Homo sapiens: one gene and its partners. The protein of the gene in region 1 binds, or shares a complex with, the protein of each later gene. Each region holds a gene or a part of one and is shown in the gene's direction. Other genes may lie near its edges.

Region 1 (7,022 bases):
CCATGCCCAGCTAATTTTTATGATTTTAGTAGAGATGGGGTTTCACCATGTTGGTCAGGATGGTCTCAATCTTTTGACCTCGTGATCTGCCTGCCTCGGCCTCCCAAAGTGCTGGGATTACAGGCGTGAGCCACCGCGCCCGGCCCAGTATCATTTTTTAATTGCACAAAGGTTGGCGTCATGATAGACTGTCTAACTGCCAGCGAAGTGTCTAGCGGAGGCAGAGCCTGTCGCCTGTAAGGAAGGCCATTTAGGGGTCTGGGAACTGTGGGCTGAGGCCCGGAGGTGGTGGTCCATCTCAGGGCAGAGCTACACCTCCTGAGGGGCCCATGGCGCAGGGCTCCAGGGCTACAGCCAACCTCTAGCCTGTCTCTCTTCTAGTTGGTGGAGCTGAAAAATGGGGAGACGTACAATGGACACCTGGTGAGCTGCGACAACTGGATGAACATTAACCTGCGAGAAGTCATCTGCACGTCCAGGGTGGGTGCTGCACCCACCAACGGGGGTGGGATGCAGGGGGTGCACACTCAGCCTCCTCCCTCCCTCCCTGGGCCTCATGGGAGGAGTCAGTGGGGGAGGCCGCCTAGGACTGCTCGTCCTTCCAGGGGTCAGTCAGGAGGGACAGGGCAGGGTGAGCTAGGCCACCAAGTCTCCCAGTGTGCCCTGGACTTTGACCCTGTGGGAGACTTTCCTGCTGTGTGTCTGTTGGTGCCACCCCTGACCTGGAAGGACCTAGGACTGGGGACTCCCTGTGGCTCAGGCTGGGGCAGCCCCCTCCAGGGGAGGCCCAAGACTCCCGGACTCTGCTGCCTTTAGTCCAGCCTGGATGTTGCCTGCACTCTGCGGGCCATGGTAGTGTGGCCCTGGGATGTCCGGGATGCCCAGGTCACGGTGGGCAGGAGCAGCGCCAGGGCCCGGTGGGTCAGGAGCCACCAGCCAGAGCCCAAGACCGGAAGTGCCTGGCTAGGAGTGCTGCTGGGTCGGCCGGGGCTGGAAGATGGTTCCCCTGGTGTCACGGGCCTTCCCTGCCCCTGGGATGACCCACAGAGCACTGAGGAGGAGGCCAGGGATGGTGCTGAAGGCAGCGGCTCCCTTGGACTCCTCCCACCAACCTTCCCTGACCCCATCTGTCTTGTCTCCCTGTGGGTGACAGCCCCCCATGGTATAGGGAGGAAACTGCTGGGGAGCTTGGAGTGCCTGCCTGGGGTCACCTTGACAGGACAACAGGGCTCGAGGGGGGAGGCGCTTCTTCCTGAAGTGGCCGTATCTTGCCCTGACCGCCACCCCCACCCGGGACTGGGCCTCTCATCAGCACAGGGCTGGGCGGGGTGGGGACAGGTGGTGAGGCTGCTGTGCAGCAGCGCTAGAAGCTCTAGAAACTGCTTGCTGGGTTTCGTGCCATAGCCTGTCGGAGGGCGTCTGGGTGGGTCCAGTCTGGCTGTGTCGGATGGTGCCTTGGTGCAGAACCGCGTGCCTCCCATCTGCGGCCAGCGGGGCTCTGTCCACTTCCGGTATTGGAATCACCAGGCGTGTTGCGTGCGTGAGCATGTGCGGTCTTGTGGACACCTCCAGGTCCTAGACATGAGAAGCCTGTTGATTCAGAGGCTGCGTGGTCTCCAGGGGTTGGTTTGGCCTCTGCCTCCAGCTTCGAGTGGACGGATGGCTTTCCCTGAGCAGCCTGCCTCTGTGGCCAGGCGGTGATGCTGCCGTCACATGTGGCTGGGAGGAGAGGCGATGGGAACTCACATCGTCCCCATCTAAGTGGGGCCCTCCCTCCCTCAGAGGCAGGCCGCAGGATGCAGAGACCCCGGGCTGAGAGACCTCTGGAGCGCTGTGGGCAGGAGGCAGGGGCCTCCCTGCAGTGAGCTCAGGCCCTGCCCAGGTTCCTGCACGAGGAAGCCTCTGGGCCCTGCCTGGGAGAGCTGGGCGCCAAGTCACCTGCCCAGGCCCTGAGTCCCCACAGAACCATGGTGTGTCCGCCCCACGAGCCCTCGAGGGGTTCCTGGGAGAGTGAGCACCCAAAGGGGCTGTTCCTCCCCGCCCAGCGCTAGGCCAGGCCACACCTACCCAGGTGTGGAGGAGAGTGTCTGACAGGAGGACTTGGGGATTCGGGCAGGTAAGGCCTTTTGGGGTCAAAGTTAGCCAGATGAGAAGTGGGAAAACCACGTGCAAAGTTCTGGGGGCAAGCCCATGGCGTGTGTTCCGGAAACAGAAAGTTCCATCTGGAGGGAGTGTCGTCGGGCTGGGAGAGGACCGCCAGGGCGGGGCAGGATCTCGGGCCCTAGAGAGCCCTGCTGAGGTTCTTAGACCTTGCCCCCAGGCTGGAGGGGGCCCTGGGTGGGTTCCAAGCTGGAACATACTGTGATCTGACTTTAAAGGGCATCGGGGGCAAAGGCCATCCAGGCGTCGTGCGTGGGTCTGTCCAGGAACCTGGGCGGTGGGGCGGGGCTGGGAAACTGATATGGTAGGAATGGCCCTGGCCCCTGCTAATCCCTCGATCTGTCCCAGTGGGGGCCTCGGAGGCATTGCAGCATGAGTCTGTGTCTTTGCAAGGCCCCCATTTCTCCAGTCTTGGTTAGCTCTCCTAAAACTGGCATCGCTGGGAGCCGCCCTTGAGCCACCCTGGCAGGACCCAAGTCCCCCCATTTCCCGCCCCTCTTCACCCACCACACTAGGCCTGTAGCTTGCTCGCATGTCCCTGCACCCAGCGCAGGCCCTGTCAGGAGATACTTAGATGAATGAATGAGTCAGGGCATGTAGAGAGGCTTCCAGAAGTGAGGTGGGGCTGGGGCAGGAGGAGGAGTAGCTGGGCTTCGGCTGTGTCTGGTGCACAGGGAGGCCCCCACCCGCTCTGGGCTTTGGGCTGCAGGTGAAGAACCCCAACCAGAGAGAGCCCCATCCCAGGCTGGAGGGAGCCCCAGTCAGCCACTCCTGAGCCAGGCCCACGGGCAGAGGATAGGAGCCAGTCTTCCTTGTGAGTGCACAATGGGGGCTGCGCCTACCACACCCACCCTTGCTCCTGGGTGAAGGATTGCCTGGGGTCAGGACAGATCCTGCCTGCAGGGTGGACCCTTTGCCACGTATGTCCCGGGACTGATACTGTGCAGCTTGCAGGGGTGGTACGGGGTGCAGGCTGGGCAGGATCTGCAGGGCCTCCCGCGCTCCCAGGGCTGGGCCAGACGGCCCGGTGGTAAGTTAATAACCTGCTCCCCTTCTCCGCAGGACGGGGACAAGTTCTGGCGGATGCCCGAGTGCTACATCCGCGGCAGCACCATCAAGTACCTGCGCATCCCCGACGAGATCATCGACATGGTCAAGGAGGAGGTGGTGGCCAAGGGCCGCGGCCGCGGAGGCCTGCAGCAGCAGAAGCAGCAGAAAGGCCGCGGCATGGGCGGCGCTGGCCGAGGTGGGTCTCCCCTCTCCAGTGGACGTACCTGGGGCGGGAAGACAGCCACACGTGGCATCCCTCCTTCTTGGGGTTGCCCTTGCAGCGCTGCCTCGGAGCCTCCCAACCCTCCCGGGCCCCCCTCCTGGTCCTTGGCCATGAGCCGAGGCCCAGGCAGAGGAGCCCCGAGACCTGGGACTCAGCCCTCCTCTCACTGCGCCTCCTGGCGGTCCTCAGGGCACATCAAGTCACCTCCCCAAGCCTCAGTTTCCCCTCTGAGAGGGTATGGTGGTGCCCATCTGTCCAGGCCGCTGGCAACTCCACTTGGAACCTGGCGTGGCTCTATCCAGAGCCAAGGTCGCCCGCCCCCACCGGAGATGATGAATTGGCATAAAATTCCATTTGTTAGGCCCAGGGGCCATCTGTAGCCCCTGCCCTTCCTCACCTCTCTGTCCCCAGCTCTGTGTTCTCGGGGGGACCTGGGCTTTGCTTCTGCCATCCATGGGCACTGCCTGTGTGCTGGGCTCAGGTGCCAGCCTGGGGGCTTGCAGCACGGCATGGCTGCCCCCGGAAGGCCCCAGGCGCCAATTCTGTGCAGGCTCACGAGGTGGTCAGGAGTGAGCCCGAGGGAGGGGCAGGGATAGTACTCCAGGCAGGGAGCTTTGGGGATCTCAGGGTGGGTGGGGCCTCTGGGGTCCCCGGCCTGGCTCCTTCCCAGTAGTTGGGGTCAAGGTTGTTGAGAGAGTGGGTCGGGTCCTACCTAGGGAAGTGGGGGGTTTTCTCTGGCTGCTCTGCAGGAAGCCACTGGGCCATGGAGTGCAGATAGCAGCCTCGCAGTAACCCCCACCAGGCTGTGCACCCTAGCACAGCTGGTCCTGCCTGGTGAGAGGGGAGGTTGGTGGCCCAGGCCAGCGTTGGCCTCTGGCCTCTGTCCCCACAGGGCCTGGTGGCCCCTGGCTGGTGAGAGCCCTGACCTCTTAGATCCTCTGAATCTGGACCCCTGACCCCACCTTCACGGGGTTGAGGTCTGCAGAGTAGACCGTGATTCCAGTTCCTGTTGGGGTCAGTCCTCCTGTCCCCAGACCTCCCTGGCCCACGACTGAGCCTCCCAGCGGGCTCTGTGGAGGGCCTGAGCTATGCTGCCTGCAGCGCTGGCCTCTGGCCCCTGGCACCCAGCACATGGGCCACAGGGCCAGCTCCTCTTGCTGGCCTTGGCTCTCCTGCTGTTTGAAGCTCCAGCTTTGATTTCCTCAAGCGTTCGTCCAGCTAGAAAGTTCTCTGAAACGGCTCCCTAAACGGGGCTTACAGAGCTGGGGTCCCCAAGGGAGACAGAGAGGGAGGGATCAATGTTGGGTCCCGGCCTGACCAACCTGCTGCGTCCAGGCCTGGCCTGTGGTGAGGGTGGCGTGAAGGGGCGCCAGGCACACAGAGGGTGTGGGGACAGGCGTGCCCTGCGTGCAGCCTGCTCAGGATTACTGGAGGTGCCGCTGTAGCGTCCACTCAGTCCCTGGGGCCCTCATCTCCCGGGAACCCCCTGTCACCTCCCCAGTGGCCACATGCTCCCACCTCAGGGGCTTCATGGAAAATGTCATTTGTCCTCATGGTCTATCTCTGGCCTCAGGCCTGCTGGGGAGTCCCCTCCCCTTCCCCATCCCTGGGGCTGGATACACAGAAATCCCTCTTTCTGTTTTCCTCCTGGCAGGTAGATGAGGGGCTGTGGGTGGTTGTGGCGCATAGGAGGCCCCCCCCCCGCCAGGGAGCCCCCAGCCTGGCCTACTGCCCTGGTCTCTGCTCCACGCCTCTCCTACCTCCTCCTCCTCCTCCAGGAAACCCTTCTGGCTTTGTCCTTTAGGAAGCCTGCCCCAACCCCCAATGTGACTTAGTGTCCTCTGTCGCCTAGTCCCCCCCCCCCGCATCCCTGGGGGCTGGGTCTAGTCCCATAATGAGGATGCCCTGGAGTTCCTGCCTTCCTCAGATGCTCTGCCCCACGGAGGAGATCCAAGCACCCTCAGTCACCACCTCACACATGAGGAAGCTGAGGCTGGAGACTTAGGTGACCTGGCCTAGAGTTTCAGGGCGCCGGGATCCTGTCGAAGGTCCCACCCACCTGGCTCTGCTGCAGCGCCCTCTCTCTGTCCTCTAGGTGTGTTTGGTGGCCGGGGCCGAGGTGGGATCCCGGGCACAGGCAGAGGCCAGCCAGAGAAGAAGCCTGGCAGACAGGCGGGCAAACAGTGAGCGCCCACCCAGACCGGCTGCTGCGCCCCCTCCTGCCAGGGTGGCGATTCCGCTCCACAGTCTCGGACGGATCTGCTCAGAAAGGAAGAGGCAGGCGCCAGGGGGAACCCCCTTCGTGTTTTGTGACCCTCCCTTTTAGGTGAAGCCCCTTTTTCTTGCTAAAACCGGCAATTCTCCGGTTAGAAATGTTACTTGGTGTTTTTTGGTTTTGTGAAACGGCCGTCCCAAAACTGGCTGGATTCCTAGAAGAGTCTGTGTTGAAGGCATCTTTCAAGCCCTCGCTCTGGTTCTCAGGGCAGCATTTTCCAGGCGGGTTTGTTTTGCATTTCTTGGAGCCTCTCCGAGCAGCAACCAGACGGGAGATTTTTATTTTAAGCTGTTCATGCTGGGACTGACAGCCTGCAGGGTTTCCTTGGGCGCGGCCCCAAAATTGCCTTCAAAACAAACCCGGGACGGTTGAAAGCCTTCGAACCGTGCAGGGGATGCCTCGGGCCCTGGCCCTTCGCTTCCTCTCTTGTGTTATGGAAATAAAAACAAATAAAACTACACACTGCACATCCACTGTTCCTTTTGAGCTTCTGGGTGCACCTAGCGGGTCTCCTGCCCTCTGTCCATCGCTGGACTCTCAGGAAATCCCCGTTCCCGTAAGGGAAGCTTCCTTTTGAGAGTTCTCACCAGGTGTCAGCGGCACAGTGAGGCACTGATGTCCTTTTACAAAAGGCAAGACCAGCATCTGGACAGTGGGGGCTCTTGAGAGTCCCCGGCGCCCCCCACACCAGGTTGTCCTATAACCCTCTCCCCTCTGTGGAGACGTTAATGCCAAGGGGTGTGTGGGGAGGGAAGTCCCAGGCAGGGGCCACGCATGGTCCCCATCACCCCCTCCTGGGTGGCCTGGACTCCATCATCTATCCTCATCTGTCCACACTGGCGTTCACACAGAGAAGACAGGACAGGAATCCCCTCGGAAGATGCTCATGGAAGATTCTCACGAGGCTCCTGCCCCCTTTCTGAGCCAGGCCGGGTTTGCCACTCCTCGGGCGCGCACCTGAGACACTGAGTCAGCGCTTTCGAGAAAGGCTCCGGGTAGCATCTGTGGACCGTGAAGAAACCAGAGGGAAGCCCTGAGCCAGGCAGCGGCCCGTCCCCCTGCATAGCCTTCTCTTCAGGGTCCTCGTTCGGAGACCTATTTTGAGAGGTGATTGGAATAAAAGGTCCCGTCCGTGAGGAACTCTTTTTCTTGAGTCTTCAGAGTTACTTGCCATCGTATAGATTTTGCATTTACAATGTCCTCGCCTGGGATGTTCTCCTTGTGTGTGGGGTGGGGGACAGGGATGGATATCTGCAGTCGCCTGAATCCTCTCCGCCACAGCGGCACTTGATTGATGGTTAGAGATGGGGCATG
Region 2 (7,022 bases), on another chromosome or scaffold:
AAAGCGGCATGTATTCACATTTTTAACATTTTTTCTTTTAATAGAAATACGTTTATTATAGAACATTTTTATTCCCTTCATTTTTCCCTTCTGTTTATTTGTAAATAATATTTACTTGTCCTCCATTCGTAAATGTTTTTTAAATTTAAAACACAAATATGTGTTTTATTAGGAAAAGTTAAACAGCACAAAAATATATAGAGTAAAAAGTGAAATCCCATTTCTTCTACTGGTAATCACTACTAAAAATGGGATTATCTTGGCCAGGTGCAGTGGCTCATTCCTGTAATCTCAGCACTTTGGGAGACTGGGGCAGGAGGATCACTTGAGGCCAGGAGTTCTCTGTGTTGCCAGCCTGGGCAACATAGAGAGACCCTGTCTCTACAAAAAATAAAATTTAAAAATTGGGTTACCTTTTCTGTATGTTTACACATATACACTCATATATGTACATGTGCACATACTTGCATTATGTACACCCTACCTCTACAAAACATGGATCTTGCCATACATGTTTTTCAGTACCTTTTTTTTTTTTCACTTAATCTTTCTTGGAAATTGATCATGAGTGCATTTAATTTTCGTTTATTCTTTTTAATGACTACCTAGGATTCTGTATATGATAGTGATCGATTTTTTTTCATTTCTTGCTACAAATACGTAAATACTTGCAGTAAGCATTTTTTTACATATTTCTTTGTGCATATCTGCAAAATATCTGTAGAATTGGTCCCTTGAAATAATCCCATTTGTTCATAGAGAACCCTGAAGGTTTTGCCTCTCCTTAATGACTTGTTACTTTCCTAAGTGTGTTGTTTTTAGTATTGCTACTCTACCCTAAAGTGATTAAAAATAGCTAACATTTATTGAGCATTAATTATAGACCAGGTACTATTATTCTAAGCATTTTGTGTGTGATATCTCATTTAATCTTTATAACAACCCTATGATGATACATACTAATTATTCCTGCTTTGCAGTGTAGGAAGCTCAGGCTCAGAAAGGTACAGTCACTTGACGGTAAAGGGAGAGCCAGAATTTGAATCTAGGTTGTCTGACCTGAGCCCCACTCTTAAGTACTGTGGTTCCGCCTTCCACAAAACCTAAAGATAAAGAACCTCTGGGCTTGGAAAGGAAATAGGGACCCAGGGAGACAATCTACAGCTGGCCTTAAAGGAAGAGAGACTCCAGGAAAGGAATGGTGGTAACTTTGGGAATACAAATGGAATTGAGTTTAATTACTTAAGTTTGTGGCTCTTGGAGGCTTCTTCAGTTCCCTGTGTAAACTTGATGGTCTCTATCCTAAATGGCCCCAACTTTCTGTTTGTTTTGTGCCTCTCAGCTATACATGTTTGATCTTGTTAGTGTGCCCTGCTTAGCAGTTCCCCACATGGCTGACAAGTGACTTTTATTTTGATGTGAGCAGGTGAACCATGTAACACGTTGTTAGAAGTAAACTTGAGTTCTGAACAAGGTCCCAGAAAGTGCACCTTTTAGTAAAATGAATGAACTTTGGAGCTTGGATTGAATATCTTAGCTGTAACATTTATTGATTGAGCCCACAGGTACTAAACACATTTAAGTTCTGGATAGGTTAGAAATGGGCAGGGTGTTGCTCTACTTACTTTCTCTCTGCGACATGTGGTCTACTGTGTGCCTTTAGAAGACTGCAATGGCATTATCTTACCAGTAAACAAAGGATTTTATCTTCTTTACTGTATTTTTCTTGTCAGATTGTTATAGGTGAAATTGAAGGATGTCTACTGATAAATGATGAAGATGAATCTGCTGTTTTTCATAATTAAATATTATAAATGATGTGACTGCCTTAGATAACAAGTGGGGTGGAGACTTTAAAAATAATTTCAAGTGATTTGAAGTAAATTTATTTTTGGCAATATAAGCAGTTTTATATTTTTATCAGGTCAATTAAGTAATCATTGGAAGTGACTTGTGAAGAAACAGTATATTAGTACTGTAGGATTACTTTTTATTTGCATGTAAAAGTTTGTGATGTAAGTATCAAATGCCCTAGTTGTAATTGAGCAATTTGCATATTGTTAAGCCTTTATCATTTTTGTAATTTGATTATTAAATTTCTTGGTTCTGTACCCTCCCACTTTAGGCTTATGATCAACATTTAAATATGATCTTGGGAGATGTGGAAGAAACTGTGACTACTATAGAAATTGATGAAGAAACATATGAAGAGATATATAAAGTAAGTCATGCAATTCTATTCATTGCTTTGCAAATATCAGCTGTTCTCTCTCGAACAGCTTAACCCATATTTATGGGAAGCCTGTCATGTTTTGACACCTACTTATGGACTCAGTAGAGCATAGCAATTAAAAGCAAGGGTTCTGGCATCTGACAGACCCTGTTGCCAGTACTGGCTTGACCACTTCCTACTTGGGCTACCTTGGGCAAGGGAATTAAGTTAGCTGAGTTCTCATTGGTGAGCAGGAATACTACCACTTACCTCATAGGGTTCCCAGATTCAGTGAGATACAACAATGCAAGGTGGCTATGTATAATAGTGTGTAACAGTAATAGTGGACAGTGTTCTTTCGTTTTCTGTGGATTTGATCTATTAATACTTAATTTATTAGAAACTGAAACTGAAAAATTTTTTAAATATTTATTCATTAAAAAAACCTGGGCCGGGCGCGGTGGCTCACGCCTGTAATCCCAGCACTTTGGGAGGCCGAGGCGGGCGGATCACGAGGTCAGGAGATCGAGACCATCCCGGCTAAAAAAACGGTGAAACCCCGTCTCTACTAAAAATACAAAAAATTAGCCGGGCGTAGTGGCGGGCGCCTGTAGTCCCAGCTACTTGGGAGGCTGAGGCAGGAGAATGGCGTGAACCCGGGAGGCGGAGCTTGCAGTGAGCCGAGATCCCGCCACTGCACTCCAGCCTGGGCGACAGAGCGAGACTCCGTCTCAAAAAAAAAAAAAACCTGGCCAGGCATGGTGGCTCACACCTGTAATCCTAGCACTTTGGGAGGCTGAGGCAGGTGGATCACCTGAGGTCAGGAGTTCGAGACCAGCCTGACCAATATGGTGAAGCCCTGTCTCTGCTAAAAATACAAAAAATTAGCTGGGTGTGGTGGCATATATCTATAATCCCAGCTACTTGGGAGGCTGAGGCAGGAGAACTGCTTGAATCTTGGAGGCGGAGGTTGCAGTGAGCTGAGATTGTGCCATTGCCCTCCAGCCTTGTCAACAAGAGTGAAACGCTGTCTCAAAAAAAAAAAGGCTGGGTGCAGTGGCTCATGCCTGCAATCCCACCACTTTGGGAGGCCAAAGCGGGTGGATCACCTGAGGTCAGGAGTTCGAGACCACCCTGGCCAACATGGCAAAACCCTGTCTCTACTAAAAATACAAAATATTAGCCGGCCGTGGCGGCAGGCACTGGCAATCCCAGCTACTCGGGAGGCTGAGGCAGGAGAATCACTTGAACCTGGGAGGTAGAGGTTGCGGTAAGCTGAGATCGTGCTACTGTACTCCAGCCTGGGGGACAGAGTAAGACTCTGTCTCAAAACAAAACAAAACAAAACAAAAAAAAACCTATCACGTGTTACTGTAAGTAACATTTTTATGAACAATAACTATTTTCTAAAACAAAATTTTAATGAGGAATGTCTTTGTTTTACATTTTTGCAAATCTCTTTAATGCCCCGCTTAATCGATAACAGCTAGAAGATTCTCATATCTTTTTTCTGCGTTAAATCTATCATGAGTTGTTGTTGTAATTGAAGCAAATCTGACCACACAGATAGGTAGTTGGAAAGGAAGGAGTTTGTTTTGTGAATGTTCTACCTTTGATACTACACCCAAACTGAACAAGTGGTAGTCAGTCAAAGATTATTTGCCATCTGGAATCTGAAACGGTAACAGTAAACTTTTCGTACTCTTGTTAGGTGAAAATTCATTAATCTGCCTTGCACCTCAAATGGATCTCTTACTCATGCATGATTTGGTTACATCAGGCACTGGTTCTTTAGAAAATAGTAGTTCACTGGGCTATGCAGATTCATTTTATTTCTTCAGTGTTTAAAAAAAATCACATTTATTAGTTATCACCAGTGATCTTGTCAGAAAGGTCTTTTTTTTTTTTTAAAGACAGTCTGACTGTGTCACCCAGGCTGGAGTGCAATGTCAGTCTCAGCTCACTGCAGCCTCCGCCTCCCAGGTTCAAGCAATTCTCGTGCCTCAGCCTCCAAAGTAGCTGGGATTACAGGCATGTGCCACCACGCCCAGCTAATTTTTGTGTTTTTAGTAAAGACAGGTTTCACCATGTTGGCCAGGCTGGTCTCGAACTCCTGGCCTCCCAAAGTGCTGGAATTACAGGTGGGAGCCACTATGCCAGGCCGTAGCAGAAAGAAAGGTCTTTAAGATTTGGAAAGACAGTTTCTGACCCTGCCAGGGCATAGTGGTTAAAATGTGGGCTCAGAGTACAAGACTACATGGATTCAAATTTTGACTCCCTTGCTTACCACCTTTTTAATTGAGCCAGCTCACCTAACCTGTCTGTGGATATGTTTCCTTGTCTGTAAAATGGGAGTAATGATAGGACCCACTTCATACAACTGTGGAGGATTCATTGAGGGCTACATGAAAAGCCTTCAGATAGTGACAGGCACGTTGTCACTGTTAAACTGTTAGCCTTCACTGGATTTTGTAGTTCTGCTTTATCCTGGCTTTCCTCCTCTCTCTGACCACACCTGACTCCTTTGCTAGTGTTCTTTCTCCTTCTGAGTGTAAACATTTAGCATTTTTTTCTTTTTTTAAAATTTTTACTTATTTATTTATGTATTTTTGCTGGCTTATTTCTCCAAGAAAGAATAGCATTTTTTAAAATCTGCATTTTTTCCCCTTTAGGAATTTCATTTATTAACTATTGTTTAGTGGTTATTGTTTTCTTAACATGGACACAATCATAAGTACTAAGATGCACTTTTTCTTAAATTTTAGCATCTTAAAAATCTGATTGCATCTTACAGGTGATGTGATAAAAAAAGAATTGTGTCATAGTTTAATTGGCAAAATTTATCCTTTTTCAGCTCAACTAAGCTTACAAATGATACCTTAAATGTGATAAAATATGGAATATGTGGCTTTAATATTCTGCTTTATTCATGTAACATCATTAACATAAGAATTTTACCATGAGAGTAGACTCTTCATAAGCATTTTAATGCTCTTGTCTTGAATTCTGCTTGTGACAGAAATGACTCTTCAACTGTGGTGTCTATTACAGAGAAGGGAACACTGCCACTTACTCCATGTTTGCAGTGAACTAACAGCAGGGTCCACCTGTGTCATCCCTAGTAGTCTGCTCCAAGTGCGGTTCCTCCTGACACTGTTTGAAGGTGCTATGTGTCTGTGCACATGTGCATTTCTCTGGGTGGGGTGTCTGTAACAGAGTCTCAGTAGTTACTGACCTCCATTAAGATTAATTGCTGCCTTGAAAGGCTACTGGGGCTGGTTAGCTCCTGAACGCTGCGTGCTGCGTGCATGTGGCCTCTCTTGCGCCTAGAGTTGCAGCTGAGAACAGTAAGCAAAGTCTATTTAGTTAATGAGTTCTTTTTCACATTGCCATGATGTATTGGGTAAAACATTTAAAATTGAATCTTTGGATGACTGAGAATACTTTAGTGTGTAAATGTGTATTAACTATAGACATAGAAAGCAAAGACAGTGATATTATAGAGAGTGTCTGCATCTGGTTCAGTGCCATGGAGAACAACTACTTCACTCTCCTGTGCGCTCTTGTTACTCCTCTCCAAGATGGGAAACCAGACTAAATGGTTTCTTACCTTGGCCCATTTTACATTTCGCTCTCTCTCTCGTCTATTGAAATAACTAATGAACATCAACGTTTTACCACCAAAACAGTATGGGGGACCCATAAACCATCAGGTTGTTGGGTTTTTTTCCCCCTATAACTTACATAATTGACTTCTAAATAATTAATTTGGCTGCTGACTTATAAATGGGAAGGTGGAAAGCAGTCAGTCTTACTCTTCTGATTCTTGGTCCTCCATAATTGGAGTTTCCATTTTACAGATTGTGAACAGTCTGTGTTATTTGACCCAGACTACTTTTTCGGCTGTCCATCATGTGTACTACCTTCCTTCACCAAACACCTCGTAGTTTGGCTCACCAGACAGTTTCTCTTGGGGACGTTGTGCCCTTTTGTAACTAAGCCCTCTGCTCCCTCTGCTTGCCCGAAGGCCTTCTACAGCATCAGATGGCTCTTCTAGACCTTTCTGTAGATTAGCACTGTAATAATAGAACTGTCTGCAGCAGTGAAAATTTCTATCTATGCTGTCATTACAGGAGCTATGAGCCACATGTGGCTATTTGGCACTTCAAATGGATGCTGGTGTGATTAAGGAACTGCACATTTAATTTTATTTAATTTTAATTTAATGAGCCACCTGTGACTAGTGGCACTCATATTAGAGCAGCTCTAGACCTGCTCCCTCATACATAACTAACTCTTTATGGTCCATGCTGAGACCATATGGTCCATATCACCGTATAGTACTTAACACATATTTCTTTTCTTACTCATTTTAAATTGCTTCCATTTTAATTTAACTTTTTGAATAGATACTAGACTCACACAGTCTTAAAATTACAAAATGCAGAAAGGAACACAGTGCAGTAAAATGTCTTCCACTCCAGCCTCTGTTCATCATCTTTACACCCCACCCCCAGACATAAGCACTATTACTGGTTTCTTGAGAATCTTCTCGTGTCTTTATGCATATGCTAATGAGTGTTAGTTATTCTCCCTTCCCCTGTTTTTTTATCACAGTGCTCTTTCCCTTTCATACATAGCTTCCTTGTGCTTTCGTTTTTAGCTTTATGGTACTTCACTGTGTAGATGTACCATAATTTAACTGTTTTCCTGTTGATGGACAGATAGCCATTTCCAATATTTTGCTAGTAAAACCTATTCTGCTGTAAATAATTTTATCTTTATCTTTTTTTTTAATTATACTTTAAGT
Region 3 (7,022 bases), on another chromosome or scaffold:
CTAACCATTTCCCTGGATCACTTTAGTCTTTTTTTTTTTTGTAGAGAGAGTCTTGCTTTGTCGCCCAGGCTGGAGTGCAGTGGTGCGATTTTGACTTGTTGCAAGCTCTACCTCCCTGGTTATTCCCCTGCCTCAGCCTCCCAAGTAGCTGGGATTACAGGCACATGCCACCACGCCCAGCTAATTTTTTTGTATTTTTAGTAGAGGCAGGGTTTCACCATGTTGGCCAGACTGGTCTCGAACTCTTGACCCCAGGCAGTCCATCCACCTTGGCCTCCCAAAGTGCTGGGATTACAGGCATGAGCCACTGCACCCAGCCCACTTTAGTCTTTTCTTATTCTCTAACTTGTCTCTTTTTTTTTTTTAGGTGTAGTATTGAGTCCTGTTTGAGCTATTGTTCTCTTTTTCCTGAAAAATGGCACTGTCAAAGAGGGAGCTGGATGAGCTGAAACCATGGATAGAGAAGACAGTGAAGAGGGTCCTGGGTTTCTCAGAGCCTACGGTGGTCACAGCAGCATTGAACTGTGTGGGGAAGGGCATGGACAAGAAGAAGGCAGCCGGTATGTACCTTTCTGCATCTTTTATCTTAACATATAGGGTGACCCCAAACACTGCTTTGAACTTCCTCAAAATTCTCTCTGTTGGGAACATCTAAAAAAATGGCAGGCCATATTTTATTTTCACCTGTATTATAGTGAAAATAGGCTAAATAATAATTTGCTTTTTCTCTTAATTGCTTATTTTTTATGTTATTTATGATAGATTTTAAATCTTCGTTTGGCTACCATACTGAGTCACCTAAGTTAGATTTACTTAGGAAGTATGCTTAAGTCAGATAGGCATATTCAGATTCAGACTGAACATCTCAACATACAAAAATCTTTATGAAATACATGAAAAAGCTTGAAGGAGGTAGATTTTGTTAATGGTAGGCTTCTACAACTTGCTATTTGGGAAAGGTGAGGGTGGTTATTCATCTCAAACTTGATGTTCAAGGTAAACAGGTTGCTCTAACTGCACCACTTCCCACGCCAAAAAATTATAACTATTTTCACCTCACAGGGCAAGGTCATTTAGTGTAAGAGAGATGGGAATCCTACAAAAAACTTAAAATTTGTTTCACTCCTGGGAATAAAATTCCAGTGTTGGTACCTGTTATAGGCCTAGTATTAGACTGTGTACTCTTACCTTTCCAACCCTACCACCGCCTTTCTTCCTGTCAGATCATCTGAAACCTTTTCTTGATGATTCTACTCTCCGATTTGTGGACAAACTGTTTGAGGCTGTGGAGGAAGGCCGAAGCTCTAGGCATTCCAAGTCTAGCAGTGACAGGAGCAGAAAACGAGAGCTAAAGGTAGGTTACAATTTACTGTCTAATGAGCTCAGGACTGTTTTGAATGGTAACAGAGTTGCTGAGCTTACCAGTTCACACGTTGATATCCTCTATTTAGAGCAGCAAATGTTCAAGAGAGGTACTTAGACATTAGAGTAGGAGAGATGAATTAGTGTCATCACCATCTGAACTACCTCTAAGTTCATGGGTTGAAATATCCAAAGAAATAATTGGCAGCTTTGTCTTTTTTTAGATAACAGGAGTTTTGATTCTCATGTTTCTCCATATTTCCTTTTTTTCCTTCTTACTGTTACTTATAAACTGATTGCTCTAAGATTTTATCTTTGATTTATTTGAGGCCTAATAAGTTGTTTTAGAATGTGACTCCACTGGTACCTGAGCTGTACACCTCATTGTTGCCTCTTTGTAGAGGTTTCTCTGCAATGCACTTGTAGATAGAATACCAAAAAATAACTATTATTTATTATATTCTTGAGAGCTTACCATTTGCTCTATGGCATATTGCTGGTCCTCTGCTGCCATGAGTGAAACACTTGGAGGAGTTGTCAGTACCCCCTTAACTACTACACTTTTTATTCTGTAGTTGCCGACTGATCCTGGCCTCTTTCAGTATTAGCAGTATCAAGTAGCCTATTTTTCTACTCATTTCCCAGTATCTCTCTTTAGGAGAAAAAAAAAAGTTCTGTGACTCCTATCAAACCTTCCAAAGTTCTTCTGATACCTTGGCTATCCCATTACTTTTCCTGAGGGAAAAGAGTGAATAAGTAATGTCTGCTTGGTCCCCTGGCCAGGCTATGGAACTAAAAAAAAAAGCAGAGAGATTTGTGCCCTTTGTGTTTGGAGCATTGTAGGGTGGTCAGAGAAGGAGAGATAGTCCTTGCCTTAAAACAATTTGTAATTTGTCAGGCAGTGTGGCATGTGCCTGTAATCCTAGCTACTTGGGAAGCTGAGGCAAGAGGATCTCTTGAGCCCAGGAGTTACAATTTAGAAGAGGCAGGGGTATCACAAAATATATATTCACGTATTATAAAATCTAAGTAGCAGTTTCATGTAAATTTTAGGGTTGGTTATAGAATTTCAGACCTATGTTGAATTTTGTTATATTTAAGGTGGAATGATTGATCCACAGTATACACAGATCTGTACAGTGAAGATTATGTCACGATAGGGCATACTTCTTTTTTTTTTTCCTTTTTTTTTTTCTAAGGGTGAGTCTCACTCTGTCGCCCAGGCTGGAGTACAGTAGCGCAATCTTGACTCACTGCAACTTCCACCTCCCAGGTTCAAGTGATTCTCCTGCCTCAGCCTCCTGAGTAGCTGGGATTACAGGCACATGCCACCATGCCTGGCTAATTTTTGTATTTTTAGTAGAGACGGGGTTTCATCATGTTGATCAGGTTGGTCTCGAACTCCTGACCTCAAGATCTGCTCGCCTCGGCCTCCCAAAGTGCTGGAATTACAGGCATGAGCCACTGCGCCTGGCCAGTAGGGCATACTTCTGTATGAGTGCTGAGGGCATGCTGTGAATGAAGTGACTACATTGGGTGGGATTAATAAAAATGGCTTCTTGAAGGAGGTGTCTAGATAGCCTTGGGATACGGGTCCCATTTTTGGTCCATTCAGGTCCCCACCCCACACAATATATTATGGGAGAGTCCTTTTTCTTGAACTGTAGGAGTTCCAGGAAGCGCTCGCCCCTGGCCGAGGATATGTCCTTGCAAAACACGAGCCCTCCTAGTGAAGAGGGGATGTCACCCAAAGCCTACCACCGGTGTGTACATTTGCTTTTTCCCATTGTCCCTTCCAGTTGGCCACTCTCGGTCCTGTTAAATTCACCTTGCAAATTAGTCATCATATTTGAGTTTCCATTGTTTGATGAAAACAAAGTGTTAATGGGGATTACTGAAGAAGAAAGAGAAAGCCCCTGTCCTGGAAGAGCTTAGACTTAGTTGGGAAAACTATACTAACATTGAAATACTTAACACTTGGCAAACAGAATATCAACAATGTAATTTAACCTAATATGAACCAAGCTCTTACACGCTAAGAGAATGTGAAACAAAAGTTTAATCAGAGTGGGATAGGTTATAATGAGGAAAACTTCTTGGAGGAGGTGAGTTTTAGGCAGGATTTGGAACAGGGGTTGTGGAAAAGTTGAGAGAAATCATTATAAATGTGAGCAGTAGCATTTGCAAAGACCTTGAGATGGGAACATTTATAAGAACATGGGAATGAAATTTGTTTGACTGGATTAGGAGAATGTTGAAGTTGGGTGAGATGGAGAGTCTAGTAGACCCTGCTTCTGGCAGGTGGCTATTTGCAAGGTTGTGTCATATTCCCCTGGGAATAGCCAGAAAATGCTGGTAGGGGCTAGGATAATTCTTCCCTTCTCCCCACGGGGAGGGATACAGCTTTTCTTTCATCTTGGGTTCCCTTAGGAGGTGTTTGGTGATGACTCTGAGATCTCTAAAGAATCATCAGGAGTAAAGAAGCGACGAATACCCCGTTTTGAGGAGGTGGAAGAAGAGCCAGAGGTGATCCCTGGGCCTCCATCAGAGAGCCCTGGCATGCTGACTAAGCTCCAGGTTAGTGATTAGGGACTGGAAGCAAAGTGGTTTTGTGAGTTGAAGAAGCAAAAGGTGCATGGGTCTGTATTTATTGTGGAATTTTTTTTTTTTTTTTTTTTTTGAGGTGGAGTTTTGCTCTTGTCACCCAGGCTGGAATACAGTGGCGCGATCTCAGCTCACTGCAACCTCCGCCTCCCGGGTTCAAGCAAATCTCCTGTCTCAGCCTACTGAGTAGCTGGGATTAGAGGCACCCACCACCAAGCCTGGCTAATTTTTGTATTTTTAGTAGAGATGGGGTTTCACCATGTTGGCCAGGCTGGTCTTGAACTCCTGATGTCAGGTGATGCACTCACCTTGGCCTCTCAGAGTGCTAGAATTACAGGAGCGAGCCACTGCGCCCGGCTAATTTTTTGTATTTCTTTTAGTAGAGACAGGGTTTCACCATGTTGGGCAGGCTGGTCTTCAACTTCTGACCTCAGGTCATCTGCCCACCTTCGCCTCCCAGAGTGCTGGGATTATAGGCGTGAGCCAGCGTGCCTCGCCTTATTGTGATCTTGATTTGAATTAGTGTTTAGCATTTGGGGTAAACTTTTTTTTTTGAGATAGAGTTTCACTCTGTTGCCCATGCTGGAGTGTAGTGGCGTGATCTCAGCTCACGGCAACCTCCACCTCCCAGGTTCAAGCGATTCTCCTGCCTAAGCCTCCGGAGTAGCTGGGACTACATGCGAACACCACTACGCCTGGCTAATTTTTGTATTTTTAGTACAGATGGTATTTTGTCATGTTGGCCAGGCTGCTCTGGAACTCCTGGCCTCAAGTGATCTGCCACCTCAGCCGCCCAAATGGCTGGGATTACAGGTGTGAGCCACCATGCCAGGCCAGCATTTGGGAAAATTTTATTTCCTGCTTTATGTTTTAGCGTTCTTTGATTTGACCAGGAGTATTCTAGGTAAGGGTATTGAAATTGCCATTTACTGTGGCAAGCAAAGTGTGTTATGTACATTATTTGCCTAATTACCTATGTCGTTGAGTCATTGAGAAAATTAAATGAAATGATCAGAACTCATCTTAATGACAGAGGAGACTCTCCAAACATAATGCAAAGAAGATATAATCCACTGATAAATAATTTTAAGTTGACTTTATTTTTTTTTAACAGGAAGTATTTGTGTTTTTTCAATTGGCATTGTTAAATAATACCACATAAGTGTTTCTTTTACCATTTAATATTTGAGGGGGGTAATAGAACATATACAGAAATATGGGTGGGTGGATTTGCATATATGTGATATTTACAGAAGGAAAGAAATGGATTTTTTTTGTGTGTGTGTGTGAGATGTTCTCTCTGTCACTCAGGCTGGAGCGCAGTGGTGCGATCTCGGTTCACTGCAGCCTCTGCCTCCCAGGTTCAAGTGATTCTCCTGCCTCAGCCTCCTAAGTAGCTGGGATTATAGGCATGTGCCACCACGCACGGCTAATTTTTGTATTTTTAGTAGAGACAGGGTTTCACCATGTTGACCAGGCTGGTCTGGAACTCCTGACCTCAAGTGATCTGCCTACCTTGGCCTCCCAAATTGCTGGGATTATAGGCGTGAGCCACCGTACCTAGCCTGTTTTTGTTTTTCAGGCAAGGTCTCACTTTTTTGTCCAGGCTGGAGTTCAGTGGCGAGATCTTGGCTTACTGCAACCTCTGCCTCCCGGGCTTGAGTGATCCTCCCACCTTGGCTTCCCAAGTAGCTGGGACTACAGGTCACCATGCCTGGCTGATTTTTGTATTTTTTTTAAAGATTGAGTTCCACCATGTTGCCCAGGCTGGTCTTGAACTCCTGGGCTGAAATGATCCTCCTGCCTCAGCCTCCCAAAGTGCTGGACTTACAGGCGTGAGCTACCACGCCCAGCCAATTATTTTCTTTTTTGGGGGGTGGGGGATGGAGTCTTGCTCTGTCACTTAGGCTGGAGTACGGTGGCGCGTTCTCGGCTCACTGCAACCTCTGCCTCCCGGGTTCACGCCATTCTCCTGCCTCAGCCTCCTGAGTAGCTGGGACTACAGGTATGTACCACCATGCCCGACTAATTTTTTGTATTTTTAGTAGAGATGGGGTTTCACCATGTTAGCCAGGATGGTCTTGATCTCCTGACCTCGTGATCCACCCGCCTCGGCCTCCCAAAGTGCTGGGATTACAGGCATGAGCCACCGTGCCAGGCCCAATGATGTTTTTTATGGAGAATGGGGATGGACGTATTCACAACATATCCTTTTGTTATGTTTCTTTCTTTTTTTTTTTTGAGACGGAGTCTCACTCTGTCGCCCAGAGTGGAGTGTAATGGCGCTATCTCGGCTCACTGCAACCTCCGCCTCCCGGGTTCAAGCTATTCTTCTGCCTCAGTCCCTTGAGTAGCTGGGATTACAGGCACGCGCCACCACGCCTAGCTAATTTTTTTGTATGTTTAGTAGAGACGGGGTTTCACCATGTTGGTCAGGCTGGTCTCGAACTCCTGACCTCGTGATCCGCCCGGCTCGGCCTCCCAAAGTGCTGGGATTACAGACGTGAGCTGCCAGGCCCAGCCTGTAATTTTTCATTTTATTTTATTTTATTTTTTGAGACGGAGTCTCGCTCTTGCACTGTTGCCTAGGCTGGAGTGCAATGCCGTGATCTCAGCTCACTGCAACGTCCGCCTCCTGGGTTCCAGCAGTTCTCCTGCCTCAGCCTCCTGAGTAGCTGAGATTACAGAACGTGCATCACCATGTCCAGCTAATTTTTGTATTTTTAGTAGAGATGGGGTTTCACCCTGTTAGCCAGGATGGTCTCGATCTCCTGACCTCGTGATCCACCTGCCTCAGCCTCCCAAAGTATTGGGATTACAGGCGTGAGCCACCACGCCCAGCCCTGTAATTTTTAATTTTTTTATTTTCTTTCTTTCTTTACTTATTTAGAGATGGAGTCTCCCCCTGTTGTCCAGGCTGGAGTGCAGTGGCATGATCTTGGCTCACTGTAACCTCCACCTTCTGGATTCAAGCGCTTCTCCTGCCTCAGCCTCCTGAGTAGCTGGCATTACAGGCGCCCACCACCACACCCGGCTAATTTTTGTATTTTTACTAG
Region 4 (7,762 bases), about 36 Mb from region 1:
GAGGTTAGGGCAGGAGGTGCGACTTTAGTTACGACCTGCAGAGAAGGCCCGTGGGCCCAGACTTGAATAAGGAGGAGACAAAGGGGTGACAGGAGGAAAGTATGCCAGGCTGAGGGGACAGCCCTGCACGCAGCTTCTGAGGACTCCAGCCTAGACATGGAGGGAGAGATGTGACTCAGCCAAACAGGGACCCAAAGACAGTGGCTGAAGCAGGTGCTGCTCCTGGGTCAGAAAGACCTGAGTTCCGGGCGGGGCACAGTGGCTCACGCCTGTAATCCCAGCACTTTGGGAGGCCGGGGCGGGCAGATCACTTGAGGTCAGGAGTTCAAGACCAGCCTGGCCAACATGGTGAAACCCCGTCTCTACTAAAGATACAAAAATTGGCCGGATGTTGTGGCACATGCCTGTAATCTCAGCTACTCAAGAGTTTGAGGTCGGGAGTTGCAGACCAGCCCGGCCAACATGATGAGACCTCATCTCTACTAAAAAAAAAAAAAAAAAAAGAAAAATACAAAAATTAGCTGGGTATGGTGGCGCATGCCTGTAATCCCAGTTTCTCAGGAGGCTGAGGCAGGAGAATCGCTTGAACCCAGGAGCTGGAGGTTGCAGTGAGCCGAGATCACACCACTGCCCTCCAGCCTGGGTGACAGAGTAAGACTCTGTCTCAAAAGAAAAAAAAAAAAAAAAAGTGCCAGGCACGGTGGCTCACGCTTGTAATCCCAGCACTTTCAGAGGCCAAGGCGAGCGGATCACCTGAGGTCAGGAGTTTGAGACCAGCCTAACGTGGTGAAACCCTGTCTCTACTAAAAATACAAAATTAGCCAGGTGTAGTGGCGCATGCCTGTAATCCCAGCTACTCGGGAGGCTGAGGCAGGAGAATCGCTTGAACCCAGGAGGCGGAGGTTGCAGTGAGCTGAGATTGCAGCATTGCACTCCAGCCTGGACAACAAGAGCGAAAATCCATCTAAAAAAAAAGAGTTCAAGTTTTGGCTCTGGCTTGGCACAGTGGCTCATGCCTATAATCCCAGCACTTTGAGAGGCCAGGAGTTCGACACCAGCCTGGGCAACAGAGTGAGACCCCAACACTCAAAAACTAACCAAAAAAATTAGCTGGGCTTGGTGGCTGTAGTCCCAGCTCCTTCGGAGGCTGAGATTGCTAGAGTCCAGGATGTTGGGGCTGCAGTGAGCCACAGTCATGCCACTGCACTCCAGCCTGGGCAACAGAGAAAGACCCTGTCTCAAAAAAAAAAAAAAAATCTCAGATCTGCCACTGCTGAGCTCTGAGCTTGGGTGCATTACTTAACCTCTCTGAGCCTTGATTTTCTATACTTGTAAAATAGTAGTAATCTATTCCTGGGGGTGGATTAATGGCAGAGGCTCCAGTTGAGTCCGTTTGGGCCTTGGTGTCTGTCTGTTAAACAGGGTTTGGAATATGCCCCTGGCCTCTAGCCTTCCTCCTTACAGAACTCCCCAATACTGTCATTAAGAATTGAGGCCAGATGTGGTGGCTCATGCCTGTAATCCTAGCATTTTGGGAGGTCAAGGCGAGTGGATCACTTGAGGTCAGGAGTTCAAGACCAGCCTGGGCAACATGGCAAAACCCCATCTCTACAAAAAGTACAAAAATTAGCCAGGTGTGGTGGTGTGTGCCTGTAGTCCCAGCTATTTTGGGGGCTGAGGCAGGAGGACTGCTTGAACCTGGGAGACTGAGGCTGCAATGAGCTGAGATTGCGCCACTGCACTCCAGCTTTGGTGACAAAGTGAGAACCTGTCTCAAGAAAGAGAAAAAGAGTTGAAGGCCAGGCGTGGTGGCTCAAGCCTGTAATCCCAGCACCTTGGGAGGCTGAGGTGGGCAGATCACCTGAGGTCAGGAGTTTGAGACCAGCCTGACCAACATGGTGAAACCCTGTCTCTACTAAAAATAGAAAAATTAGCTGGGTGTGGTGGCGGGCGCCTGTAATCCCAGCTACTAGGGAGGCTGAGTCAGGAGAATCACTTGAACCCAGGAGGTGGAGGTTACAGTGAGCTGAGATGGTGCCATTGCACTCCAGCCTGGGAGACAAGAGCGAGACTCCACCTCAAAAAAAAAAAAAAAAAAAAAAAAAAAAGTTGAATTATTTCCCCCAAAAGAGGGTGTTGAGGCTTTAACCCCCAGTACCTCAGGATCACCTTATATGGAGACAGTGTCGTTACAAAAGTAATCAAGTTCAAATGAAGCCAGTGGGTGGGCCCTAATCCAGTATGACTGGAGTCCTTATAAAAAGGGTAAATTGGGACACAGACACACACACAGGGAGCAGCAATGTGAAGATGAAGGCGGAGATCAGGGTGATGTTTGTACGTGCCAATGACTGCCAGAAACCTCCAGAAGCCAGGGGAGAGGCCTGGAAGATTCTCACAACCCTGTCGACACCTTGCCTTGGATGTCTAGCCTCCAGAACTGTCAGACAGGAATTTCTGTGCTTGAGGGACCCTATTTGTGATAAGTTCTGGGAGTCCAAGCAGACTAATACAACTGTCTTCAGAGTTTCAGGCATCCAGACCTGATGCTGTTCCTCCCCCATTTGAAACCCTTCAGTGGCTCCTTCACTCTCAAGGAAAAAAAAATATCCAGACTTCTTGTCCTGGTGTTCCTGGCCTGCCAAGATCTGAGCCCTGCCTGCTGTTTAATCCTCATTGATTGATTGATTGATTTTGAGACGGAGTCTCACTCTGTCACCCAGGCTGGAGTACAGCAGCATGATCTTGGCTCACTGCAACCTCCGCCTTCCGGGTTCAAGCAATTCTCATGCCTCAGCCTCCCTAGTAGCTGCGACTACAGGTGCGCACCACCACACCTGGCTAATTTTTTTGTATTTTAGTAGAGATGGGGTTTCACCATGTTGGCCAGGCTGGTCTCGAACTCCTAACCTCAGGTGATCCGCCTGCCTCAGCCTCCCAGTGCTAGGATTACAAGCGTGAGCCACCATGCCCAGCCCATCCTTATTCTCAGCAAGGAGGCTATTGCAGTCATTCAGCCCAGACAGCTGGAGTTTGCAATGGCAGCCATAGGGATGGAGGAGAGGAGAAGGGTCCAGAGACACTCAAGAGGCGGAATGAATGAGTCGAGAGGAGTGAATCCTGGCAGGGGTATGGGAGATGTGAAGAGCTTGGGCTTTCACCTGTGAGCGGTGCCACGCATTGAGAGGCCCCCGGGAGACATCAGAGAACCCATCTGCGTTGTCAGGGAAGCTCCACGGGAGATGGCCCTTCCAGGGGCCCGGCACAGGGCCAGACACATAATGCATGCTAAATGACTGAATATATAAGCTAAATGACTGAATATATCAGCAAGCCAAGAAAGGCTGGGCATGTGGAAAGGCAGAGATTGCGGGGGGCGGTAGTTTAGGCCAGGGGACCCCAAAACCGGGGGATCCGCACTCACCTACCTGCTCGATCTCCCGGCAGCGCCGACCTAGTGCCTGGTACTTTCTGCGATTTAATTCCCGCTGGCGCCGCCGCCGACCCCGGGCTGCCTCTTCCTCTTCATCTCGCTCCCGGAGCCCTGAGCCGCCCAGACCACCTGACACAAACTCCACTTCCGTCTCCAGCTCGCTCTCCAGGATGTGGCCACCAAATAGGGGAGGCAACGCCAACTCTGAGCCTGGCGGCGCTGAGAACTCCTCAAAGCCCACGGCTGCCATGGTCCTGAGAGGCAGGGAAAGGCTCAGGGGCCCTGGATCCTGGACCCCCAGCCCCTTCTCCCACTGAACCAGGAGCCCAGACCCCAACCCCTCCTCCCTGAGATCCTAGAATCCAGGCCCCCAGCCCCTCCTCCCTCAGACCGTAGAATCCAGCTCCCAGCCCTCCTCCCTCAGACCCAGAAGTCCAAGTCCGCAACCCACCCTTCGCAGCACCCACAGGGTTCAAGCCCTGACCCCCTCCTCCCAGGATGCAAGAGTCCAGACCTCCAGACTTTTTCTCTCCAAGGACCCAGGGAGTCCAAGCCCCAACCCTCAACCAGACGCAAGAGTCCTGGCTTCCAACCTCCTAGTCTGTCAGATCCAGCAGTCCAAACCCCTAACCTTCTCCTCCCTCAGGATGACCCCAGTCCATAAAAGGGTTCTAAGGTAAAGCAGTTGCATGAACTACAACCCCCATCAGACCTCAGCGTAAAAGCTCATATGGTTGCACACAATGCAGCTGCACTGTTTTCTGGGATTCGCACTTTTTCACAAGGGCTCAGCCACATACCCTTCTCTCTGCTCCAATTCCATCTCCGCGACCTCCGGAAGCCCCGGGCCTCAGAGCTTCCGACCTCTTCAATCTGTAGGTTAAGCCGTTCGCAAAACTACTTGTCCCATCAGGCTCAGCAGCCGAGGACGGCGGGACGTGGCCCTAGGCCTTGTGGGAGTTGTAGTTTCCTGTTTCCGGCTTCGCTTCGGCCCACCCCCACGTCCACCCCGAATCCCTGCTTAAAGGCCTTGCTTTCTTGTCTAACGCCGCAACCAGTCCTCTGAGTTGCCAACGTCTTTCTTCTTGTCTCGACGCCCCGTCGTCCGGCCACAGCGATTCTCTGCTTAGCAGGATCGGTCCACAGCGGGACGTGAGTCCCTTTCCTCCTCGCGGCTTACCGCCTCTCTCCGCCTAGTGCCAGGTGCTAATAAAGTTGTTGTTTCAAATGCGGCCAGGAACATCGCGAGCGGGGACCAATCAGAGAGTAGCTTTGCCTCTATAACGGCGCGAGAGTGAGACGTCATCGGTGAGCGACTAACGCTAGAAACAGTGGTGCGCGGAGAGGAGAGGTGAGTGTGATGGGGACCACGGGGAGCGGGAGGCTGGGCTCCTGGGTCTGGGAGAAGAAGTGTGTGAGGAAAAAGGCGGGTCTTTACAGCTTGGTTTTTGTTTTTTTGTTGTTTGTTTGTTTTGAGACGGAGTCTCGTTCTGTTGCCCAGGTTGGAGAGCAGTGGCGCGATCTCGGCTCATTGCAACCTCCGTCTCCCGGGTTCAAACGATTCTTCTGCCTCAGCCTCCAGAGTAGCTGGGATTACAGGCGCCCGCCACCACCCCTGACTAATTTTTGTATTTTTAGTAGAGACGGGGTTTCCCCATGTTGGTCAGGCTGGTCTCGAACTCCTGATCTCGTGATCCGCCCGCCTCGGCCTCCCAAAGTGCTGTGATTACAGGCATGATCCACCGCGCCTGGCCAGTTGTTTGTTTGTTTTGTCTGAGACGGAGTTTCGCTCTTGTTGCCCAGGCTGGAGTGCAGTGGCGCGATCTCGGTTCACTGCAACCTCCGCCTCCCGGATTCAAGCGATTCTCCTGCCTCAGCCTCCCGAGTAGCTGGGATTACAGGCGCGCACCACCACGCCCGGCTAGTTTTTTGTATTTTTAGTAGAGACGGGGTTTCACTATGTTGGCCAGGCTGGTCTCCAACTCCTGACCTCAGATGATCCACCCGCCTGGGCCTCCCAAAGTGCTGGGATTACAGGCATGAGCCACCGCTCCCGGCCTTTTACAGCCTGTTTACCCAAAAGTCTTAATATGCGCCTACCATGGTGTGGCCCTGGGGATGTGGAAGGAGCAAAAATTGTTCGCTACCCTCTTAGAGCTTTGGTTGATGCCTGGCAGACAGGCTTTATCAAATAATTACTTCATTAATCACAAATGTGTGAAGTGCCTTACTGTAGACACGCAGAGCGTGCGGGACACGTTATCACAAAGCAACCTCCTGTAGTCTAGAGTGGGGCGTGTGGGTCAGGGAGGTGGAACGTGAGAGCTGAAGGCTGAGGAGATGCTGGGCTACTAAGAAGTGAGGAGAGCCAGACGCCATGGCTCACTCCTGTAATCCCAGCACTTTGGGTGGCCCAGGCGAAAGGATCGCTTGAGCCCAGGAGTTTGAGACCAGCCTGAGCAACACAGTGAGACCCTGTCTCTACAGAAAAATTTAAAAATTAGCCGGGCGTGCTGGTGCGTGCCTGTCATCTCAGCTATCGGGAGGCTGAGGCGGGAGAATCGCTTGAGCCCAGGTGATCGAGGCTGCCGTGAGCTATGATGGCGCCACTGCACTGCAGCCTAGGTGACAGAGCAAGACATGGTCTCAAAAAAAAGAAAAGAAAAGAAAAAACAAAGTGAAGGAAAGGGCCACTTTAGTTACAAGGGACTCCTGTACAAAGACCTGGAGGCGGGAAGAGACCGATAATGTAACCAACTCAAGTTTCTGCTACTCAGAGGCAGAGGAAGTGGGGGGTGGTGAAAGTAAAGCAGCTTTACTGATCAAATGCTCGCAGATGAGAAATGGCCAAGCTAATGTCTTTAGAAGACCATTTCAAGCTTTAGGCTGGGGAGAGGGGCTTAAAAAGGGGAACTTTGAATGGGAGGCATACAGGAGTGGTGCTGGGTACAAGGTATGTGTGTCTTGCTCCGAAGGCTGTCTTGAGTCACGGGCCACCTGGAGCATGGGCTGGTGTCAAGTCAACAATGGCCACGTTGTAGATTGATCGCCTTGAGGTGATCTCTGGAGTTTTGCAGCTGGGTTTCCATACCTAGTTTGTTTCAAGATTAGCCCCTGCGGCGAGGCGCGGTGGCTTACGCCTGTAATCCCAACAGTTTGGGAGGCCAAGGTGGGTCGCTCACTTGAGGTCAAGAGTTCAAGACCAGCCTGGCTTACATAGTGAAACCTTGACTCTACAAAAAAAAAAAAAAAAAATTAGCTGGGCATGGTGGCAGGTGCCTGTAGTCCCAGCTACTCAGGAGGCTGAGGCAGGAGAATCGCTTGAACCCAGGAGGTGGAGGTTGCAAGTGAGCCAAGACTGCGCCACTGCACTCCAACCTGGGTGTCAGAGCCAGACTCCATCTTTAAAAAATAAATAAATAAAGATTAGCCCCTGGAACTTCTAAGTAAGCACATAGATAAGCCAGCAGTGCAAGACAGTATCTAGTGGGAAAGGAGGGAAACAAAGAATTTCAAAGTATGTTTTCAAGGCTAAAGGCAAGAAAGGAATAAGAAAGTTTGCAAATGCATTTGGAATCTACACCACTTGGTTCCAGTAAGTCTTAGCAAGGTGGCGGTCATAGGGGTGTGCTGCGTCTTGCACAGGTCGGAGCTGGAGACTCGCCAGTGAACAAAACAAACTAAAGCACCTGTTGTCGTGGAGCCTGCATGCTAGTGGGGTTGATAAAGAAGGACCAGGGTCTTCTGGGGGAGAATCATCGCTCAGTAATAAGGAGGGACTTTGTCGGGGCAAGTTTTTAGGGAACGCTGCTGTCCCTCCCCAGGCCTCGGGATGTCTCTGGCAGATGAGCTCTTAGCTGATCTCGAAGAGGCAGCAGAAGAGGAGGAAGGAGGAAGCTATGGGGAGGAAGAAGAGGAGCCAGCGATCGAGGATGTGCAGGAGGAGACACAGCTGGATCTTTCCGGGGATTCAGTCAAGACCATCGCCAAGCTATGGGATAGTAAGATGGTAAGAGGACAAGAGGTGTTCCTAGCAGGGGGCTCTAGACAGAATCTCCCAGAAGGGGGTGATACAGGCTTCTTTTTGAAGAGTGCTGGATTCTGACTGTCTTCTCCTTTCCTACAGTTTGCTGAGATTATGATGAAGATTGAGGAGTATATCAGCAAGCAAGCCAAAGCTTCAGAAGGTGCTTCCTCCCACTCTGTGCCCCTCCCCATCTCCTGTCTCTCCTGCCAGGCCCCCTGGCTCCCTGGCTGCTTGTGGCTGGGTATATCTCCTTCTCAGCCTTTTCCAGAGCCTTCTTTTTTTTTTGTTTCACCCCAACCCGT

What was found.
Region 2: LSM4 (region 1) and LSM3 share a complex: the UniProt entries of both Homo sapiens proteins name them as parts of the precatalytic spliceosome.
Region 3: LSM4 (region 1) and PRPF3 share a complex: the UniProt entries of both Homo sapiens proteins name them as parts of the precatalytic spliceosome.
Region 4: LSM4 (region 1) and PRPF31 share a complex: the UniProt entries of both Homo sapiens proteins name them as parts of the U4/U6-U5 tri-snRNP complex.

What each region holds. Positions count from the first base shown.
Region 1 is NC_000019.10:18,306,062-18,313,083, reverse strand, and holds the end of LSM4 (U6 snRNA-associated Sm-like protein LSm4), read left to right. Parts: intron 1-381; coding exon 382-480; intron 481-3,222; coding exon 3,223-3,406; intron 3,407-5,528; coding exon 5,529-5,620; 3' UTR 5,621-6,848; downstream 6,849-7,022. UniProt on the Homo sapiens protein: Plays a role in pre-mRNA splicing as component of the U4/U6-U5 tri-snRNP complex that is involved in spliceosome assembly, and as component of the precatalytic spliceosome (spliceosome B complex).
Region 2 is NC_000003.12:14,181,812-14,188,833, forward strand, and holds part of LSM3 (U6 snRNA-associated Sm-like protein LSm3), read left to right. Parts: intron 1-2,125; coding exon 2,126-2,221; intron 2,222-7,022. UniProt on the Homo sapiens protein: Plays a role in pre-mRNA splicing as component of the U4/U6-U5 tri-snRNP complex that is involved in spliceosome assembly, and as component of the precatalytic spliceosome (spliceosome B complex).
Region 3 is NC_000001.11:150,324,528-150,331,549, forward strand, and holds part of PRPF3 (U4/U6 small nuclear ribonucleoprotein Prp3), read left to right. Parts: intron 1-367; 5' UTR 368-415; coding exon 416-560; intron 561-1,223; coding exon 1,224-1,354; intron 1,355-3,029; exon of another isoform or gene 3,030-3,125; intron 3,126-3,792; coding exon 3,793-3,939; intron 3,940-5,924; exon of another isoform or gene 5,925-5,971; intron 5,972-7,022. UniProt on the Homo sapiens protein: Plays a role in pre-mRNA splicing as component of the U4/U6-U5 tri-snRNP complex that is involved in spliceosome assembly, and as component of the precatalytic spliceosome (spliceosome B complex).
Region 4 is NC_000019.10:54,111,014-54,118,775, forward strand, and holds the start of PRPF31 (U4/U6 small nuclear ribonucleoprotein Prp31), read left to right. Parts: upstream 1-4,740; 5' UTR 4,741-4,784; intron 4,785-7,227; exon of another isoform or gene 7,228-7,257; 5' UTR 7,258-7,265; coding exon 7,266-7,442; intron 7,443-7,559; coding exon 7,560-7,620; intron 7,621-7,762. Other genes in the region: TFPT (TCF3 fusion partner), read right to left, coding at 3,429-3,687, 4,234-4,256. UniProt on the Homo sapiens protein: Involved in pre-mRNA splicing as component of the spliceosome. Required for the assembly of the U4/U5/U6 tri-snRNP complex, one of the building blocks of the spliceosome.